3 linked regions of the Homo sapiens genome follow. The protein of the gene in region 1 purifies or fractionates together with the protein of each later gene. This does not show direct contact. Each region holds a gene or a part of one and is shown on either strand. Other genes may lie near its edges.

Region 1 (7,101 bases):
GTGGGTGTTGAAAAAATATTTGAAGGAATAGACCTGAATGAATGGTAATTATTGGTAGGGGTGGGAAATGGACTAAATGACCTAGTGAGATCTTTGTTTTGAGATCTAAGTATAAGATCATCTCTTAAACCTTTTAACAATATTTTGGTGGAACCTATTAGAAACTTAACACATTATTGTGTGCAAGATATCTAAAAATAAGTCCAGTTTTTTAGAGGCAGTAACATTTAAGATAATTTAAAACATTCCATATTAGTGTAATGTCTTGTTAGGGAATGTGGACAGTAAAAACGACCATTTGTTAAATTTTTTTTCCCCTCCAAAATATTGTCTGATGTTTGCTCCTTCGTGTTACTTATGGAGAGTTACTGTTTATGACTTAAAGATATGGGGGTGGAGAGGCCTAGGTAACTGCAACAATGTATTTAGGTAATTTACATTAGGTTTTTAGAGGGCTATGACTATCTGCAAAAGGAAAATTCAAGATACCTTGTTATAAACATGGTATACAGTGACCTTTGGCATGCATTTTGTTTTGTAACTACACGAAGTGTTAATTTGGATTGAATCTTTGTTTTCACTTGAAAACCTTTTTTTTTTTTTTAAGAAATAGCTTGGAAATTTAGGCTGCCCTGAGGTGTTTTCGTGTGTCTGTTTATGGTTGACAAGTATCTAGTTATGAGAAGAAAATGTGGATAGAATTAACTGTATTATAGGCGAGAAGGGAATTGCCTTATAATCTTGTGCCACTGAACACAAGATTAGTAGAAGAGTGGGCTTCACTTGTGACTTTCTTGGTATTTGTGATTAGGCGTGTGCCAGTTTGTCTTTGCTTTGGCATTAGCTTTCCTCATATTTGAGAAGGCTTTCACGTTTCCTGTACACACACAGGAAGCAGTTTCACCCCTCCCCAAGAAAAAACTTATCTAAACCCAGCAAAACCCAAAAACTTCCAGAAAGTCTTTATCAAGAATTTAGTTCCTCATCCCCAAAGTTGTGTTAGTCTTATTTTGTAGTAATCATAAGCAGTTATTTAAACTGAACCAAGAATCTTTACTTTCTGTTGAGTGTTTTGGTGATTTTACCTCCATATATGTTCGTCTATTTTCGATTTAGAAGTAAAGATATTACGTGAAACTATTAGTAATGTTTCCTGAAACTTGATACTAACAGTTTGCTCTGTGAAAGTGAATTGTGTGACCAGTGTAATAGCACCTTATGTATATATGGTGGTTTTGCCTTTTAAAAGACTTTTTACCAGATGTTATCTTGACTGTTGGGCAATTTTCTGATGGCTAGAGAGGTGGTAATTTATGACCCAAAGCTTGCTCAACTTTGGATTAAAAAGTTTGGAGAGTTAAAATTTGTGTTTAATTACTTGGAAAAATCAGCAAATTATATTAAATTACCTAAAATTTCTCCTCAGTTGCTCCCAAATGAAGAAAGCTTTTTGAAATCTTGCCTTATGTCAGTGCTACAATTTTAAGCTAGAGTTGTAAAGTTTACCATAGAGTGTTTGAAAGTGAAATGTAGACTTCATGTGACTAAAATAATCATTGAAGGTTCGTTCATATTGGGTAATTGAAGAAAGATCTTATTTGTTAATACTGGCTACCAGCAGCCTTAGTTTGATTATTATTTTTTTATATGGAAACAAAATGATTTGGAAATATTGCACTGCGTAAGCCAGCTAGGTATTTAAAAAGTTAAGCTTTTGCTTTGAAATCCTACTTCCAGAGTACTAAAACGAGTGAGAATTGTTTATTGGTGATAATACCCTACGTTGAACACGTGAAATGGTGTGGTTTCTTTTGGGCATATATGTTTTGCTAATGTAGAACCATTTTGGTGTCTTGGCAATTGGTTCTTATACCAGAGCTATGTATCTTCTCTTCTAGAAAGCGATATTTAAAAGTTTGTATTACTGTTAAAACTAGGTTTTGACAAGTTACATAATTTTTTTTTGGTTTGGGGCAGATGCTCATATCTGATACATAGTGAGTAATAGCTTAAAATGTGTCTTTGTTCTTGTCAGTGAATATTCTTGTTTTATCTCCCCATGTTAGAAAAGTTTGTTTTAATTGATTTTTGGGGGGGGCCCAGTGAACTGGCTTAACATAGAATGAAACTGGCTTTCAGCATCAACTCTATTTTAAATAACATCCCTGTTCATTAAATAACCCCCTAATTTTTCTTGAGTGTATAACATTTCCAATGACAAGATTTGATTTTTTAATTTTTAAAAAAGCTTTCACAAAAAGCTTTTCCGTATTATCATTATCTATATTATTTGATAATATAGAGCCATTTCGACATCTTGGCAGTTGGTTCTTCTACCAGAGCTATGCATTTTCTCTTCTGGGTTTTTCACAAAAGCTTTTGCATGTCCGTAAAATGTTATGGACATGTATGGTTAAGGCTTGCATCTTGGCACCCATGTATTTGGGTAAAAAGATGCTTGAGGCCTGGCGTGGTGGCTCACACCTGTAATCTCAGCACTTTGGGAGGCCAGGGTGGGCGGATCACTTGAGGCCAGGAGTTCGAAACCAGCCTGGGCAACATGGTGAAACCCTGTCTCAAAAAACAAAACAAAACAAAAAAAAAACAGGTGTGTTAGTGCCACCTGTAGTCCAGGCTACTCAGGAGACTGAGGTGGGAGGATCAGTTGAGCCTGGGAGGTGGGGGGTTGCAGTGAGCTGAGATTGTGTCACTGCACTCCAGCCTGGGTGACAGAGTGGAGCACTGTCTCAAAAAAAAAAAAAAAGGTTTGAACTGTGACATCTGTCTGTCTGCTTGCTATCCAGTTATAGACAGCAGTTGAGGCAGCATGATACTGTGGAAAGATCCCCTGCCCATGAAACCATGAACAGAGGCTCCAGAATCTGGCTGATCTGAGTCTCAACAGGTTCTGTTGGCTGTGTGACTTTAGGTACAGTGATTTCACCAAACATCAGTTCCCTCATCTGTAAAATGAGGTTGATAGTAATTAGCATAGGAATCTTGTGAAAATTGAGATAATGCATGTACATTTCTTCATGGATTTCTTTCTCCTCCTTTTTTCTCTCCTCATCTTCATTCATGCTCATTCTGTGATCCTAGCATAAATATTTTCTTCAGAGAGGCCTTCCCCAAACCAGGTAGTCTTCCTTGGCCATGCATTCTTTTTTTTGGCCAAGCAGGACCATTTGTTTTTCTTTGCAACCCTTACTGCAAATATGATTATTCATATATGTTCTTATATATAATTGTTCATTAAATTTCATTTAATATAATTGTAAATTTAATTTCTCCATTAAATTTTAAAGTCCATTTGGACAGGAAGAAGTTTTTCTTGATCATGGCTGTAACTCCAGTGCCTGGCACATAGGGGGTTTAGATTCATAGAATGATAGAATGCGGAACCTGTATGTTGAATCCTTCCTGACTACCACTCCTTAGCCATGTCATCTTGGGCAAAACAGCTTCTCCTCGCTTCAGTATCCTGTATGCCAGATATAGATAGCACCGGCTGCCCTGCCCAGGATTTTGAGAATGTGAAATGAGACACTATAATGAAGTGCTGAAGTGTAAAATGCCATATAAATATAAAATGGCACAGTAGCAATAATCTCAGTAATGGGGTTATTCAGTAGGAAGCTCTATTGTGACTTAAGAGTATAGAATTTTAGCTTTGCTGAGTTGGTTGGTAGCTAATATTTAAGAGTTACGATAAATTTAAGCTTTCTTATATGTACCAGTTAGAATGTAGATGGGCCTGTTTCTGACTAAATACAGTGGCTTAAACGAGAAATTTATTTTTCCTTCATAAAACAACAGTATAACTTATCTAAGGCTGATATGGTGGCACCACGATGTGAGGGAGCTTGGTTCCTTCTGTCTTGTTGCTTTCCTGTGCTTACCATTTTCTTCATAGTACAAGGCAGTTTCTCACTACATCCACAGTCCAGGAATAGGATTTTGGGAAGGCACATTCCATCCCTTTAAAGACAAACCTGGAAGTTGCATACATGATTTTTCTTCATACCCTATTGGTCATAACTTAGTCATGTGGCCATGTTTAGATACAAAGGAGTCTGGGATATGTGGTCTTTGATAGGTGACTATTTGGCTGAAAATTTGGGTCTACTGAAGAAGGGGAGAATGGGGGATGATTAAACATTGCCTGTTACACTTCAAAATGTTTTGGGAGAAGCTTCCAGAAATAGACTTTGAAAATACAATGGATTGCATTAGTTAATAAGTTTATTTTCTGTATTTAATCATTAATTTTTTAAACTATGGTATGTGAATTCAAATAGACCGTTATGCAAAATATAAGTAAGTGGTCAGATTAGAAAAATGTAGCTATACTTTTAGTAGTGAAGGGATTTTGGGTCTAATAACAGTTATTTTACTGACGCTTTATTTTCTGATAGAAACATGGTTCTTGATTGCTGTGCTTGTATCACGTAAGCAATATTTGAAATCTGAGCTTTTGCATTTAGTGTTAATAGTCCACTGGACCAACTGAATGTCTTCTTGCTCATACCCTCAGCAAACAATGCTACAATAACACTCGCATGTTGTCAGGATGTCATAAAGATTTGAGTCACCGAACACTGCAAGAAGGATGATAGCAGAGATATTTAAACGTACATTTACTATCTAGTATGTTCCTCTTGAATTCCTGTGGATTTGAAAAAAGAGAAATATAAATATCTAAGATTCCCTTAAACTATGAAATATTATTAGCTCTAGTACAGACTTGGGAAAACTAATGGTTCCCAAACAGTCTTCTGGAGAACTTGTCAAAGTTAAGAGATTTCCAAGCTCAGATGCCTCTCTTTCTGTAGGTTTAGAGTGATGCTCTGGAATCTGCTTTCTTTTTTTTTGAGACAGAGTCTCGCTCTGTCGCCCAGGCTGGAGTACAGTGGTGCGATCTCGGTTTACTGCAAGCTCCGCCTCCTGGGTTCACGCCATTCTTGTGCCTCAGCCTCCCAAGTAGCTGGGACCACAGGCGCCTGTCACCACGCCTGGCTAATTTTTTTGTATTTTTAGTAGAGACGGGGTTTCACTGTGTTAGCCAGGATGGTCTCAATCTCCTGACCTCGTGATCCGCCTGCCTTGGCCTCCCAAAGTGCTGGGATTACAGGCTTGAGCCACTGGGCCTAGCTGGAATCTGTTTTCTTAAGGACTCCAGGTAATCCTGATGCAGTAGGAACATTTTGAGAAACACCAATAAAGTTCATTTCTCACATATTAGAGAAGGAAGTGGGTGCAGAGAAGCTGAGTGACTAATCAGTGCCTCAGAATAAGCAGGCCTGGGACTAGCATTGTTTTTCCTGACTCTTCGTTCTTTGTTCTTTCTACAGAAGAGGGAATAAAGGACAAGGTGTACAGAGTGCAGTGGGATTTTATAGGAATAGTTATCATCTTAAAGTAAGTATGTGGCTTTTAATGTGGGAGCTTATGTCTAGTGAATGGTTGGCCCAGTTGTCCTTTTTGCCCTATAGAAAAATAATGTGAATATTTAAATACTCAAGTGAATGTTTAAAGGTTAAGTGAATATTTAAAGGTGAAAAGCTGAAGGTTTTAAGTAAGGTTTTGTTAGTATCAGCACTATTGTGGGCAATGTATATACAGCATTAGAATAGATGTATAGGCAGCTACTTACTTGACATGATTAGAAGGAACAAAGGTAGTTCTTGTCCTCAAATTACTACTTTCCTTTTAGGTTGCTTGTAATTTTCACTGTTGGAATTCATTTCATTAGATTAAGATAAAATCTGGAATTCTCTAGTTTAAAATTTTAAAATTAGAATATTCCTAGAGGAATATTACTTTTTTTTTTTTTTTTTTTTTTTGAGATGGAGTTTCACTTTTGTCACCCAGGCTGGAGTGCAGTGGCACAATTTCGGCTCACTGCAACCTCCGCCTTCCGGGTTCCAGCAATTCTCCTGCCTCAGCCTCCCGAGTAGCTGGAATTACAGGTGCCTGTCACATACCCGACTAATTTTTTGTTATTTTTAGTAGAGACGGGATTTCACTATGTTGGTCAGACTGGTCTCCAACTCCTGACCTTGGCCTCCCGAAGTGTTGAGATTATAGGTGTGAGCCACCACACCCAGCCCTGGAGGAATATTCTTTACCTGTTATGAGGTTAACACTTTATTTGTATCAGTTATTATTATTAGATCTAGCCTGAAAACCCATAGCCCTAAATTGGAACAGGCATGCCTGTTTTTGCACCCAAAAGTTGCCTTTTGGCCCGCCAAGCCCCCCTCTTCCTATACCAATATAAACCTGAAACCGCAGGCCCCACAAGCAGACGAGGAGATGAAGAACAGAATGACAGAATGGCTTGGCAGAGAGAAGAGAGAGTCTGAGTGCTGGGAGGAGTTCCACTGGGAGTGGTCAAAGGGGAGAACAGCTGCTTAGTGCAGGTGTCAGTCCAGAAATCAGAATGATGCCTGCACTAAGAATGTTTTGGAAAGGAGGGAAGAACACAGTCCATGTGCCCTTTACTGAGAAAAATGAAGGGTATGTTTAGGCCAGGCGCAGTGGCTCATGCCTGTAATCGCAGCACTTTGGGAGGCCAAGGCGAGTGGATCACGAGGTCAGGAGTTCGAGACCAGCCTGGCTAAAATGGTGAAACCCCCATCTCTACTACAGATACAGAAATTAGCCAGGTGCAGTAGTGAGTGTCTGTAGTCCCAGGTACTTGGGAGGCAGAGGCAGGATAATTGTTGGAACCCTGGAAGCGGACGTTGCAGTGGGCTGAGATCGTGCCACTGCGACAGAGTGAGACTTCGTCTCAATTTTTTTTTTAAGGGTATGTTTAAGAAATATCACCTTGTGGTATGGTCATGGGAAGGTTCATGTGAGTATTCTCTGGTGGCCAGAGGTTGGTAGTGTTAGCTTGCTTCGATGGCTTCCTATCACTGAGAGTGTTGGTAATGGCACTGTGGGTAATTCTGCCTAGGACCCTGCGCTTGATTAACTACTGGACTAGAGGGAGTGTCCCTGTTTTCTTACTGTCTTATTTGTTAGGGCCCGTATTTGAGCAGTGTTATCAAACATATAAGGTACGGTTCTGATCATCTAGGATATTCTAGTTTTTAA
Region 2 (7,000 bases), on another chromosome or scaffold:
AAACTTAGTGGCTTAATACCACAGAAATGTATTATTTCACAGTTCTGGAGACCAGAAGTCCAAGTTCTGTTTCACTGGGCTGAGATCAAGGTGTTGGTAGGGCCATTCTCTCCCAGGAGGCTCCTGGGGAGAGTCTGTTCCTGCACTTCTAGCTTCTGGTGGCTGCTGGCACTCCTTGGCTTGCAGCCACATCACTCGAGTCTCTGCCTCTGTGGTCATATCGCTTTATCCTCTTCAGTGTGCATACATCTAATCTCCCTCTGCCTCTTTCTTATTTAAGGACGTTTGTAATGGTATTTAGGGTCCACCCAGATAATCTTGGATAATCTCAAGATCCTTAATACATCTGCAAAAACGTTACTATACAAGGTAACATTTATAGGTTCCTCATCTTTGAGGAGCTGTTTTTTAACCTGTCACTGCATCTCCTGACACACTCTGCTCCAGCCACACTGGCCTCTTTATCATTCTCAAACATGCCAGGCTCATTGCCGCCACAGGGCCTTTGCACTGGCTGTTCCCTCTGTCTGGATTACTCTTACCTCAGATACGCACATGACTCACTCCCTCACTTCCTTCGTGTTTTTATTCAGATGTTACTTTTTCATTGGGGGCCTCCCTGACATTTCCAATTGTATCCCCCACCCAGCATTCCTATCCCTTTTCTTTGCTGTATTTTTCTCCTTGGCACTTATCACTGTTTAAACTGTCTCCCCAATAAGAACATAAACTCAGACGGGACAAGTATTTGTGTTGTTTTGTACATGGTTGTATGGCCAGTGCCTGAAACAGTACCGGGCACACAGTGTACATTCAGCCACTATTTGTTGATTGCACGAATGCTGTACACTCAGAGCCCATCTGCAAGGAGGAGACACAGAGCAGAAGAGCAGTCAGCCTGAGGCAGACAAGTTAGGAAAGGCTCCCTGACAAGAAGAATGGGAATAGTTGGCCGGGCAGGCCGTCTTAGATCGGGAGACCAGGCTTGGAGGTTGGGGGTAAGGTAAGAAAAAGGAGAGGGAGATGGGTTTGCTTGGGAGGACAGAGAGCCAAGGATGGAGAGCCCGTGGGATGAAGGGTCAGATGGTGAATTCTATGGCCAGGGGTTGGGTGTTGACACAAAGAAATGGCCTTAGTAGTATAGTTTACACAGAGAAGGCAGTGGTTGGTGGAAGACGTTGCTGAGCGGAGAGAGGTGGGGTCACTTGGATTGAGAGAGGAGATGACCCTAGCTGCTATGATTTTCACATCCCTTTCTTTTTCTTTTCTTTTTTTTCTTTTTTCTTTCTTTCTTTTTTTTTTTTTTTTTCTTGAGACTGTCTTGCTCTGTCGCCCAGGCTTGGAGTGCAGTGGTGCAATCTCAGCTCACTGCAACCTCTACCTCTTGAGTTCAAGCAATTCTCGTGCCTCAGCTACCTGAATAGCTGGGATTACAGGCGCCCAGTTAATTTTTCTATTTTTAGTAGAGACGGGGTTTCACCATGTTTGCCAGGCTGGTCTTGAACTCTTGACCTCAAGTGATCCACCCGCCTCAGTCTCCCAAAGTGTTGGGATTACAGGCATGAGCCACCACCCCCAGCCTCACATCCTTTTTAAGTCCTGTGCTAGCCTGCATTTCTCTTTCCATCCTCTCGCATATCCCAGAAGAAAGAGGTACTTGAAGAGTTTGCAAGAGATATTAGTAGTACCCGTGGCGGCCTGAATGTGGCTGTTTTTTCCTCTCTGTTACCACCCACCTGTGAGTACAGTATCTTCCCTGAGGAAGGGAAATGGGCAGAACGGTCCCTTTAGCTTTTGTCATCCCTCTATAGCCTCTGCCACCTTCCAGGGACAACAGGTTTGTGTGGGGGGTGCGGGGCCCAGCTTCGATTAGCAGAGGTAGTCATCTTTAGAGTTGGTCCTGGAGCCTTGAGGAGAGGATCCTTTGTGTGTCTGCTGGGTCGAGGTGGCTGGGAGAGATGGGCTTCCTCCTCACTTTTCAGTGCATGCACCAGCCTTTTCTGAGGCTTTGTCTGGTAGAACCCTGGTTTAGAGAGACATGGGCATTTGGAAGTAGCTTTCCATATACTGACAGAGCCAGTATATGGCTTTAGGGTTTGTGCTGAAGATTTGGGCCTGAAGGATGTGCTGTCTGCCCTTTTCCTAAAGAAGGGAATTGTGGGGAAATGGATCTCTGGATGCTTTATTTAGCATTTGTAGACTCCTCTGTTACCTACTTACTCGTGATGCTCATCAGAACAAGAAAGTTAGGGTAGTTGTCTCACCCTGGCTATGTTGCGTGGCCCAGTAAAGGTGCTGATCCATGAGCAGCTGGGAGAAGGAAGAGCCAGGGAGCCCCAATCCCCAGTGGCCCCTCTCCACTGCAGCTGTCACATACGGCCGTCTGCTCTCACAAGCTTGCTCAGACTCCCCCGCCGAGCTCCTCTTAGCAGCTGTTGGGTGGCGAGTAGTTGGGTTTTTTTCCCCGTCCTCCCCCTTTTCTGTTTGCAACAACCTCTCGGGGGAGGTCAGCAGATCTCTTGGAGGAGACAGTTCCCAGGCCCTCATGTTTTTGGCAGCCTGTGCTTGTGCACAGAAGTTAGAGAGAAACTGGTTCCACTGGAGCGTTCCCCCTTGGGCCCCTCCCTTGGAATGGAAGTAGGGATACTGGTGGTGGGGAGGGTTCTGGGCCTCTTTGGCTTCATGCTTAGAGCCAACAGCTTCCTCCCTTGGGTCGGGGCTCAGGAAGTAGTCCTGCAGCTCTCCCTGCCTCCATCTTGGACACTCTGTCTTCGGTGCAGCAAGGGAGAGAAGATGCACACTGAGGGCCCTGTTTTTATGAGGGCTGGGCAGGCCCGGGAGGAAAAGGAGTGATAAGGCCAAGAGGGATCAGGAATCAGGGCTGGATTCAGAACTGTGGCTCTCTCCTTTCTGAAAATGTCTCCTTCCTGCTTATTTGCAGCGGGGGCAGGGGTTGGGGGAGTAACACTTATTCCATGTGCAGGGAAAAATGAAGCACTGCACCATACAGGAGTCCCCTGCTTTGGTCAGGGGACCTATGTTGACATTTTTTCCTGTTTTACCAGTTAATAATCCCTTAATGCACTCCTATATATTAACTTGTTTTTATTAGGCTCCCAGGAGCCTGGGCCTGTGCTACACATGTAGAGGGCGAGAGAATAAAGAGTGCCAGTGATTCCCGGAGCCTGAGCCTATATTCTCTTGGAGCTGGTTGGGATAGGAGTGGCAATACTTGTCCTCACCACTGAGGATCAGCTGGAATAACTGGGATATCATATATGTATAGCACTCAGAAAAGAGTAAAGAGGAGGTTGGCCCTGTTGGGTCATCAGGGAATGTTTGCTGGAGGACATGAACTGGGAAGGAGGGAGTGCAGGTGGAGAAGCCTGAAGAAGAACACCGACTGGGAGTGTTCAGAGGTTGATGAGCAGAGAGAAGGGCTCAAAGGGCCATCACCTCTACCCAGAAAACAGTGTGCCTGTTCCCCAGTGCCTGCCAAAGAAGCTGCTGTGTCTCACTGTGTTTCTCTCCCTGCAGACGCCCCTGTCCTGGCAAGAGCTAGAAGGTGAGCGTGCCAGTTCCTGTGCACACAAGCGCTCAGCATCCTGGGGCAGCACAGACCACCGAAAAGAGGTAGCTACCCACTTTGACTCCCTGCCTAGGGTAGCGGCTTCTTCTCGATCCCCTAGTACCATGCAATGCATCTGCTCCATGGTGGCGTCACACTGCTCACCTCTCCTATCTTGACCTGGCCTTTTCCTGATGAGATGGCTCCTTCCTAGCTGACTCCCACTCTCCAAGTGGCCAGGTCTTAGGAGCCCAGACCCTCCTGCTAGGCAGGGGCTTGGCCAGAGGCTGCTAGTGCCTTTCAGCAGCAAGCACAGGGCTGGAGCCACCATTGTTCTTTGGGATTGGATCCAGATAAGCAGCTCAGAGACTGGAGGAAGACAGGGAGGGAGTTCCTGGGAATTAGGAGCTCCCAGCCTCATTTACTTCTTAACTACTCATCTAGTTTTTTGTTTGTTTGTTTGTTTTTGGAAACAGAGTCTCTACTGGCCAGGCTGGAGTACAGTGGCACGATCTCGGCTCACTGCAACTTCCGCCTCCTGGGTTCAAGCGATTCTCCTGCCTCAGCCTCCTAAGTAGCTTAGATTACAGGCACCCACCACCACAGCCACCTAATTTTTGAATTTTTTTTTTTTTTTAGTAGAGATGGGTTTCACCGTGTTGGCCAGGGTGGTCCTGAACTCCTGACCTCAGGTGATCTGCAAGCCTCAGCATCCCAAAGTGCTGGGATTACAGGCGTGAGCCACCACGCCCAGCCCTAGCCTTATTTTCAAGAGAAGAGAAAAATAACGAAATGCTCCCAAACACTTTTTCCTGGCCCTCCCTCTCCCTCAGGAGTGCTCAAGTCATTGAGGTTAAGGGGAGAAAGCCGTAGGCTGGAATATTCCAGGGCTCCCCATCAGCTCCTCCTGACATGCTGTGTGGCAGCTTCTGAGAGGGTCAACTCGATAGGACTCACCCTGCACGCCTTTACAAGAGGAAGTTGCTTCTGCCCTCTATTGCTGAGAACAATGAGAAAATATGAAGTGAATACGTTGAGAGCTTAAGACAAGGGGGAAATAAAAAATATTTAAACTTTTCAATGGTCAGAGTAAGCAAGTTATTCACACTAAGAATGGGGAGATGTGGTATGAGTGACCCACAATAGCAAATTGGAAAGCTCTTTCTTCTTGGCTCTAGTCATAAATCTTATGGCTGTGGGTAGCAGATCTACTCTCTGAATTCCATTTAATTTAGGCTTATATTTAAATAGCTCTTCATCCCCTGAGCATTTTCCAGTTGAGGGCAAGAAGGTCCAGAATTGCACATGTGATGGGATAATATTCAAAACTGTTGATGATAATCTGTAGTAGTCTCAGGATATGAAAGTCAAGATGAAATCCAATATCCCCTTCTTGAGTGTCTATCCCTGTTCCTAGTGTAGTCTACTTTAAACAAGGGAGAATATCCCCATCCTTCCTGGTCTCAGGGCCTCTAAGATCGTTGTGAATGTACTCTGAATGTCCTTAGCATTCAGAAACATCATCTTCCATTGCTATTTATAGAGGGGTAGGGCCAGACGCAATGCCTCATGCCTGTAATCCCAGGACTTTGGGAGGCTGAGGCGGGTGGATCACGAGGTAAGGAGTTCAAGACCAGCCTGGCCAACATGGTGAAACCCCATCTCTATTAAAAATACAAAAATTAGCTGGGGGTGATGGTGGGTGCCTGTAATCCCAGCTACTCAGGAGGCTGAGGCAGAGAACTGCTTGAACCTGGTGGAGGTTGCAGTGAGCCGAGATCGCACCATTGCACTCCAGCCTGGGTGAGAGAGCGAGACTCAGTCTCAAAAAAAAAAGAGGGGTAGTCCATGCCTTTGGAATCTGTAAAAGACAAAATGGTTTCCATGTTGTATATTTTTAATTATTTGGAATCCAATCCATCTAGTTAAGTGAGGTATCCAACTCGTCTGAGGAACAGATCATCACAGTTTTAACACCATTGAGCTATTTTGAGATGGAAGATTAACTTCCATCCTCCTTGTATATATCTTCATGGGCCTCTGCCAGGAGCCACTCTTTGGAAGAGGGACCCAGTGCACTTTGGCTTTCCTTAATCTGCCTCTGTCGTCTTCTCTCTGGGCTGCTAGATTTCCAAGTTGAAGCAACAACTGCAGAGGACGAAGCTGAGCCGCAGTGGGAAAGAGAAGGAGCGAGGTTCACCACTCCTAGGGGACCACGCAGTGCGGGGAGCACTGAGGGTATGTTTTCTCCCCCAGCCCTCTCCCCTCTGTTCTCCTCCATGCAGGCCCCCCTATATGGGCAGAGGTTTCCTGGGTCTTGGAACTGCCGAGCCCCCTACCACACTGCATGCTTTGTGAAGTTTTAGTCCAAACTTGGTCTTGCTGTGTGATATTGGAAGGGCTTCTTGCCGTTCTGAATCTCCCTCTCTTCTACCCCCATCCCCATATAATTGAGGCAATGACTCTACAGCACACAGTAGACTCTGCAAAGCTCAAACTTTTGGAGAAAACTGCCCTGAGTGGACCTATTGCAATCTGTAACTGTCCCCAAATCACCCTTCATTCACTCAGTTCTGCTGTGTGGACATGACCATTACCCCTGGTCAGAATGAAAGACTGTCTAGGCCTGGTGGGGCTGTGTGTGATTTTGTCATTTGCCTCTTCCTCAGGCGTCCCCTCCCAGCTTCCCCTCAGGGTCCCCTGTCTTGCGACTCAGCCCCTGCCTGCACAGGAGCCTGGAAGGGCTCAACCAAGAGCTGGAGGAGGTATTTGTGAAGGAGCAGGGAGAAGAGGAGCTGCTGAGGGTGAGTGGCGGCTGCACCCTGAGTGCACCCACAGTCCGTGCCTCACTTGGCCTGGGCGAGGGGAACTGGGAGTCCTGCTCTCTGGGGCCTCACAGGCTATGGCTACGCAAACAGCAGCATACAAACACCAGCCTGCAAAAGGAATGCAAATGGAGTTTATTAGTCTCAAATGGCCTTAACCCATGTCACTAGGGCAGGCTTTGTGGTGGTGAGTACAAAGACAGGGGGCAAGGATTGGCAGAGAGGAGGCCCCCCCGCTGGGAGGAACAGACAGGGGTCATCTTCAGCCAAACTGCCAGTTCTCACTGTTCCCCGTGTGCTCGGCACCGGCATGGGCGCCTCAGTGCCTGCTGCTCCCTGCCCCTTCTCCATCTCTACCTGGTAACACGCATGCCTCCTTCATGCCAAGCTGCTCCTATGCAGCCTTCTCCCCGACTCCACTCCCAGGCAGAATATGTGCTACCTTTGCTGAAGTCTCAGGCACTTTTTTTTTTTTTTGAGATGGAGTTTCACTCTTGTTGCCCAGGCTGGGGTGCAGTGGCGCGATCTCAGCTCACCGCAACCTCCGCCTCCCGGGTTCAAGCAGTTCTCTGCCTCAGCCTCCCCAGTAGCTGGGATTACAGGCGCT
Region 3 (7,380 bases), on another chromosome or scaffold:
ATATAATAGTCTCGTCTACTTAATTATCATTTATTTTCAGTTCCTTTACACAGGTCTCTTGAGAATAGCTCTTCTTAATAGTGAGATAGAACTAAATACCAATCAGCAGATGTCACTCCTTAAGTGATCCTCTTCAGTTTTCTCTGTTTATTTCAGTTGTCCTTTTTTTTTCAATGCCTTTTCTCCATTGCCAATTCTATTTTCCTTCTTTTGGAGATAGGTTCCCACTCTGTCACCCAGGCTGTAGTGCAGTGGCACAATCATAGCTCACTGTAACCTCAAACTACTGGGCTCAAGCGGTCCTCTGCCTCAGCCTTGCCAGTAGTTGGGAATATGCCTGGCCCCCATTTTCCATTTTCATCCTCTGATGAGCCTCCAGGAGCCAGTAGGTCTAACAACCATAATGCAAGGTATTCTATCTTTTTGAATGGCAGCTTCAATACAAATATCTGTGTGGTTTACAGTAGCCACATCAGATATTTTTCTACTCTGCGACTAGGCTTTTGTAGCAGAGATACACCTGTTAGATTTTTTTTCCTGAGGAAAAGCACAAGTTTTAGTTCATAAGATAAACACTGGCTAAAATTTGCCACTCTTAACAACATTAAACAAATATTTATTGATCATCTACCATATACTAAGCACTGTTGTAGAGATTCAGCAGTTATAAAACTGATAAAAAGTCTTCACTTCATGGCTGTTCTATTCTAGACAGACAAAACAAAAAATAATTATAATATATTATGGTTTGGTTGCTGATAAGTACTCTGCAAAAAGAGTAGGATAAAGAGCAGGAAAAGCCGAGGGGTGCTTACAATTTTTAAAAAAGTGTTCAGGAAAGCTCTCATCATAAAGGTGGTGACATTTGAGTAAAGACCTGATGGAAATGAGTGAGCAAGCCATGTGGATATCTGGGCAAGAACCTTTCAGGCAGAGGGAACACCTAGTGCAAAGGTGCACGTAGGCTGTCACAAGCAGTAAGGAGTTTAATTTAAGCATCTGCCAGGGACAAAAATTCAGTCAAGGCTTTTTTGTTGTTGTTGCTATTAGGAATCAATCTACAAGAGAGTTTAATCAGCTTAAGATGAACATCAGTGCAGATCTGTTTAGTGTTCTCTCCCAGCCATGACCTCATTGCAAATACTGACAGCCTGGACTGCCTCTCAGATTTGGATGGGCCTTGGATGCTCAGCCAGGCAAACCCAGATGGAGCTAGAAGAGGAAGGTTTTGGTAGCTCTGTGGGCTCTGTGGCTTCTTCATCTTATGATCTCTCCACATAGGGCTGCATATAAATCGCATGTAACCAATGATTCCAAGTTTTAATTTAACCTAAAATGTAGTCTATTACCATATTTGCACTAAGAAGAAAGTAGAACAGAATTCTACCTCAGATTAGCTAATGGCAGATCCTCGTCCCACAGATAGCCATGGCATGGGGCTACTGATACAGAAGTATTTCTCATGCCACCAAATTGTGCCTTCAATTTTGTCTTCTTTACACAGGACAACATAGTAAGAGGTCATTGTTAACATTAAGTCTTATATAAGATTTTCAGAGATTGTTACACTTACATTCAACCAGTATGGAAAATCGGCACTAGGCCTAACTACCCCATAGCTAGCATAGTAGCATAACAACGCTCTTCTAGCCTAGCAATCCACATCTCATTCTAGGGGGTTTCCAATTTACTAAGAACATTTTCTTAAAGCTTCTATATATCCTTGGAGCTTACTTTGTCCTCAATAAGAATAAAATATTATCAAGAACTCAACAAATGGACATTTGAAAGCAGGCACTGAGTTTAATTTATTTTAGGCCACCTTTGATTTGTTTGAAGCCTGTATTCCTTAAATATGAAGATCAGTACTTACGTCGTGAGAATAAAGGTTTAAGAGACAACCAAGGTTTCTATAGCAAAGAGAAACGACTGAGCTTCTAGATTGGTCATAATGACTTACTAGTAACTGAAAATAGTATTTTAAGATCATACTAATTCTCTGTTTCTCTGTGTGAGTTATTTAGATTTGCTTTAGATGTCTAAGTCAGCTGTGGTAGATTTGAACAAACACAGAAAGTCCTTAAAATATGACTAGGTATGTTGCTTTAGATCCAAATTAGGTATTGATCATTGTGATTGTGACCTAGAATAAATTTAGAATTATTGTAACCTAATGTGTTGAAGTTGTTCCATAAATATATTTAGGAGTAGCTAGAGATGACATTTCTATAATGCAACTATGCTGTAATCAAAGCAACAACTCAGAAATTTACCAGCATGTAAAAGAAAAATCTTAACTTTTTTTCTTCTTCTTCTTCTTTTTTTTTTTTTTTTTTTTTTTTTTGAGACAGGGTGTCATTCTGTCACCCAAGCTGGAGTGCAGTGGTGTGATCAAGGCTCACTGCAGCCTTGATCTCCCGGCCTTTTGGGCTCAGGTGATCCTCCCACCTCAGCCTCCCTAACCGCGTCCAGCTAGTATTTTTACATTTTTAGTAGAGATGGGGTTTTGCCATGTTGCCCAGACTGGTTTCAAAATCCTGAGCTCAAGTGATCCGTCTGCCTTGGCCTCCCAAGGAGCTGGGATTACAGGCGTGAGCCACCGCACCTAGCCAGCTTTACATATTTTTAATCTGTCAGATTTTTTGTTCTTGCTATTCTGAGAAAAGTCACTGAAAAGAAATCATTTATCATTCTTTTTACACACAAAATAATGCAGTTTTTAAATTAATGAGATAGGCCATTTATATAAAATTTGAAAGAGTAAAGTTTTTATTCATAATTAAAATATATGTTATTCTGGAAAACAAAAAAAAAGTAGTGGTCTGTCTTCATTTGTAAAATTTCCTTTGAACTGATGGGAACTTATCTCACAGATGAGATTTGTGGGCCATTGTGAATACTCTACAGATTATGTACCCCACAGCTTTGAGCTGCCAGGTACTATAGCAGAGTGCTTCCTCAGACTCTTGAGCCAGTCTGTCTGGGTGAAATTTTTAGCTCCCCATATACTAACTATGTGATCTCAGGCAAGACAGCTTATTTATGCCACAACTGAGACCACAGTAAGGATAATAATAGTATCTACCTTGTGGATTATATGAGGACTGAATGAATTAACACACATAATGTTCTTAGAATAGCGGCTGGCACATGGTGAATAAATGTTAGCTCTTATTATAATATGTGGTAAACTGAGGAACTATCACTAGTTTTACTTGGATGAAGTACTGCATGAAATTTTTGTATTTTTATTGAGTTTCATCAATTTTTTTACTGAACCTAGTATGCTTTCTCGTCTGAACACACAAGGAAGAAAAGAAGGATGGCTCCTGTACGTGAAAGTGACCCCTGCATATAGTGCCTGAAATCAGAGGAAGCTTGTCAGTGTGGGCAGACACCACGAGCAGACCAATTTGACATTGTGCTTCTCTTTTAACCTCTTGAAAATTAATGAAAGTTATCTGATGAAGATCCTTACATTAATTGCTCCCGATTAAGGTTTAAAACCTTGGTTTACTGTGGGGTAAATTTATGTTTTTGATAGTCATCCAAAATCTTTGTACGCTTTCAGTTTCATTACAGAATAAAAAACAAATTTACCACAATGGATTATTACATTACATCTGGTATTTATTCCTCCCAAGAAGCTATCTGCTTCGGAAAAGCCAGGGGCGCCCTTCATTAATATATCTAACTGATGGTGTAATGACATAAAATTCCTTGTTGACCCCTGCTATTCAGTGTTATTGTCTTGGAACATAGAACTTGATAATCTCTTTTCACTGCATAACTACAAATGTTAGGCTGTAAGAGTATTTTACTTTGTTCAGTGCAGGTTCCAGACATTTCTCCTGATCACCAGAAGTTCTTTTGATTAATAAGGCTACTGGTCACGAAAACTCAGCTTACTAAAAGAGATCCAGTCTTCTGGTTCTAACTAAAACATCCCACCGGATGCAGGTGTACTTGCAAATTAAAGTTTGCCTCATGTGTCCTGTGTCTCAAGTCATACAGACGGCCCAGGAGGGTGGAGCCCCTGCAACCTGCCTAGCGGGGCGTTTGCGTGTCTGGGGGTGTCGGGACACGCGCAGGACACACACAGTCCCACTTTCCTAGTCTCGCACTTACCTCAAGGCTGTCAACTTTTACGCTCCTCCCTGCGCGCACAGCCCCCACCTCACGCTGCCACCCCTCACGCCCCGCCTTCAAAGTAGGAGGCACCATTGTCATTGGACACTGCTTCTCTCACTCCTATTCCAGAACCAATCACTCGAGTTCTAGTGGGGAGCGCCTAAGCCAATGGAAATGCTCGCTGCGGCAGCTGCCGGGTCCTGGGCGCTGGGAGGCGGTGCCGGGGGCGGGGTGCGGCTGGGGCGAATTAGTTGCCATTCGGAGTGAGGAGTGGGTAGAAGCGGCGGCGGCGGCGGCGGCGTTTGCGGTGGCGCGGACTCCGAGGAGCGCCAGCACCTCGAGGCCCTTTCTCTCTACCCTGGTCCCCAGAAGCAGGGGTCCCGGCCCTCCTTGCAGCTGCCGGGTTCTCCCGTGCGTGCAGCCCTGCGAGGGCTGAGGAGAAGGCTGCGAGCGGCCCTCGGGGCTGCGTGATCCGGGCCGTTGCCCTGTCAGCACGATGCCTGGAGCGGTGGCGGCGGCGGCTCCGGGCTCCTTGCGGCCCCGGCCGTGACCGCCACACCGAGCCCAGCCGGGCGGTTGCGGCCGTTGGACGTTTGTTTTCGCAGCCTTCCCCTCCCCCCTCGCCGAGGCGGCGGGGGTGTGCGTTGGGGAGGGGGAGCCCCGAGACTCCTCCCCCACAGCGATACCCCCGCCCCTCCCCCTTACACACTCGCACGCACTATCGCGCCGGCTCCCACACGCTCGCGCGCCTCCCGCCCCGCGCCTCCGTGTCGGCCGGCGGCGTCCAGGGCCCGCAGAGCCACCATGTCCACTGCCTCCTCCTCCTCCTCCTCCAGTTCCTCTCAGACCCCTCATCCCCCGTCGCAGAGGATGAGGCGCAGCGCCGCGGGGTCCCCGCCCGCCGTCGCCGCCGCCGGGAGCGGGAACGGTGCGGGCGGCGGCGGCGGCGTGGGCTGCGCCCCGGCTGCGGGAGCCGGCCGGCTGCTGCAGCCCATCCGCGCCACGGTGCCCTACCAGCTCTTGCGGGGCAGCCAGCACAGTCCCACGCGTCCGCCCGTCGCCGCTGCCGCCGCCTCGCTGGGCAGCCTCCCGGGGCCCGGCGCGGCCCGCGGCCCCAGCCCGTCCAGCCCGACGCCGCCGGCGGCCGCAGCCCCGGCCGAGCAGGCGCCGCGGGCCAAGGGCCGCCCGAGACGGTCCCCAGAGAGCCACCGGAGGAGCAGCTCACCTGAGAGACGGAGCCCCGGCTCGCCCGTGTGCAGAGGTAGCGAGCCCAACCCTCCCGTCCTCCCGGGCTGCGTCTCCCCGACGGTGCCCTCCGTGGAAACTTCAGCCTCTTCGGGCTTCTCTTTGCTAGTGCATTATCGAAGGTGTGAAAGTGGCTTTGGGAATCTCACCCCCCTGCGGTCGCTGTGGGGCTTGGAGGAGCGAACTGAAAAGCGACTTTTATTTGACCCTCATGCCGCCCCTCAGAGTCTCTCTTCCATCACTCGCCTGCTTCGAGAGGTTTTTCAGTTTAAGAGCTGGCTAGCTCATTCGTGTGTTTGCCGTTTGTAGCCGGGGAAGGAGAAGCTGGGCGAAACACTTAACACGCACACAAACTCTTCAGCAGCGGATAAGGTGGCGGTTGTAATCTCTACCGTCTCTTTGTGCTTTTCTGCAAAGTTCCTAACGTGCCTGTAACTACCGGGATAGTATTTTATTTTTTAGAGGGTTGGTGGCATTAGTTTCGATGTAAGGATATCGGCTGGATGTAATGATATCTGCTAGAGGGGACAGTTTTGAATGTACAATTGAAGTGTATACGGTTTTTTCCCTCAGTCCTCCCTCTCTCCCTCTCCCCCAGCCCCCCGCCACCCCGCCTCTCTCTCTCCCTCTCTTTCTCCCCCTCCCCTTTATATATTCATGCATCAGAGCACTCCTGCACTGGAAACAGTTTGTGCTCTACCGGAGATTTTCATGGTAAATTTCTGAAAACTTATTTGTGGAACGTGTTCGTTTTTTTCCTTCCATTTTTAAGTACACTTAACAGTTCAGTTGAGCTGTTCAAGGATCTCAAGTTTCTTTTTTTGTTAGGTGTCAAAGGTAATGGTGAGCTGGTGGATGCTGTGGGTTTCCCTTAGTGTTTTCTGTTTTGCTTTGGTTTTGTTTATGTCTAGGGACACAGTGCATGATTTAGTTGAGCCCTGGGGGAGAAAAGGAAGATTAGCCAAAACAGGGACTTAAAGCTCATAAGGGAGAGTGGAATAGCTAATATTGTTAGATACCGAACTAGAGCTACAGATGCTGCTGCTGCATTGTGGAGGGAACAGATCATACTGGGTGGAAAAATCTCTGCTTGGAAGGGAAACACTGTCAAAGTCTGTACATTGTTTATGTGGTATGTGGAATTTTTTTTTTTAATGGAGCTTTCTTGATGAAGGTGTTAGAGTTGGAGAAAGTGGTTGTCTGCATTATGATACATTGCAGTCTTGGTGTTTTTGTTTTAATATTTCAGACCCGTAATTAGCATGTTGCTAACGCACTTGTTTTCTGACCACTTGATGGTGAACCAGTGTAGGATGTAGTGCAGTGGGATGAGTACATGAGCAGCAAGAAATACATCCTGTAATCTGTATGCATTGGGAGGAATATGCTCCTGCACTCCTCCCCCAGGTCAAGCCAGCTGCTGCAGAAACTGACATCCTCCAGCAAATCCTGAATGAATGAATGAAAACAACGTGATCGCCCTAATAATGACCACAACTGAACACACATCTTTGGCTGTATTTTATAGAAAAGGCCACCATTTTCTAACAGATTAATGCCATATGCAACTCCTTTGCACATTTTCTAGAACTGTATGAAATGAGAAGTAACAGAACGAACAGAAAACAGTTACATAAATTTTTTAGTGATTTCGCTTCAACAGTGCACAAATTGAGTTTTGGGATTTTCTTGTAGGGACTAAGAGGCATAAAATAAGCATTGCAGATTGTGTACAGAGGGTCTGGTGGGTGTGAGTAAGAGAAGTTTCGGCAATTGCTGCAACAACATAATGGCCATCTAGTACCTCCTCCCCTTTTGTATATAAACACTAACATCTTACAACGGATAATAGTACAACTTGTTTTTCTGCATCCTTCAAAAGGCTTAATGGCCTAGGAATTACATGCTCCATCATCAAGCAGTTTTAATAAAATTTGTGATCTGGCTTAAACTATTCTCTTTGTTGTAGTGTGGCACATACGAGTTTAATGCGATTTTAATGCA

Evidence for each region.
Region 2: the proteins of DYRK1A (region 1) and FAM117A purify together in Homo sapiens (affinity purification with mass spectrometry; 4 studies listed by BioGRID and IntAct, with this or other methods). This does not show direct contact.
Region 3: the proteins of DYRK1A (region 1) and GLCCI1 purify together in Homo sapiens (affinity purification with mass spectrometry; 8 studies listed by BioGRID and IntAct, with this or other methods). This does not show direct contact.

The regions. Positions count from the first base shown.
Region 1 is NC_000021.9:37,369,700-37,376,800, forward strand, and holds part of DYRK1A (dual specificity tyrosine-phosphorylation-regulated kinase 1A), read left to right. Parts: intron 1-7,101. UniProt on the Homo sapiens protein: Dual-specificity kinase which possesses both serine/threonine and tyrosine kinase activities. Exhibits a substrate preference for proline at position P+1 and arginine at position P-3.
Region 2 is NC_000017.11:49,719,132-49,726,131, reverse strand, and holds part of FAM117A (protein FAM117A), read left to right. Parts: intron 1-3,537; coding exon 3,538-3,633; intron 3,634-5,695; coding exon 5,696-5,806; intron 5,807-6,237; coding exon 6,238-6,372; intron 6,373-7,000.
Region 3 is NC_000007.14:7,964,416-7,971,795, forward strand, and holds the start of GLCCI1 (glucocorticoid-induced transcript 1 protein), read left to right. Parts: upstream 1-4,380; 5' UTR 4,381-4,935; coding exon 4,936-5,392; intron 5,393-7,380.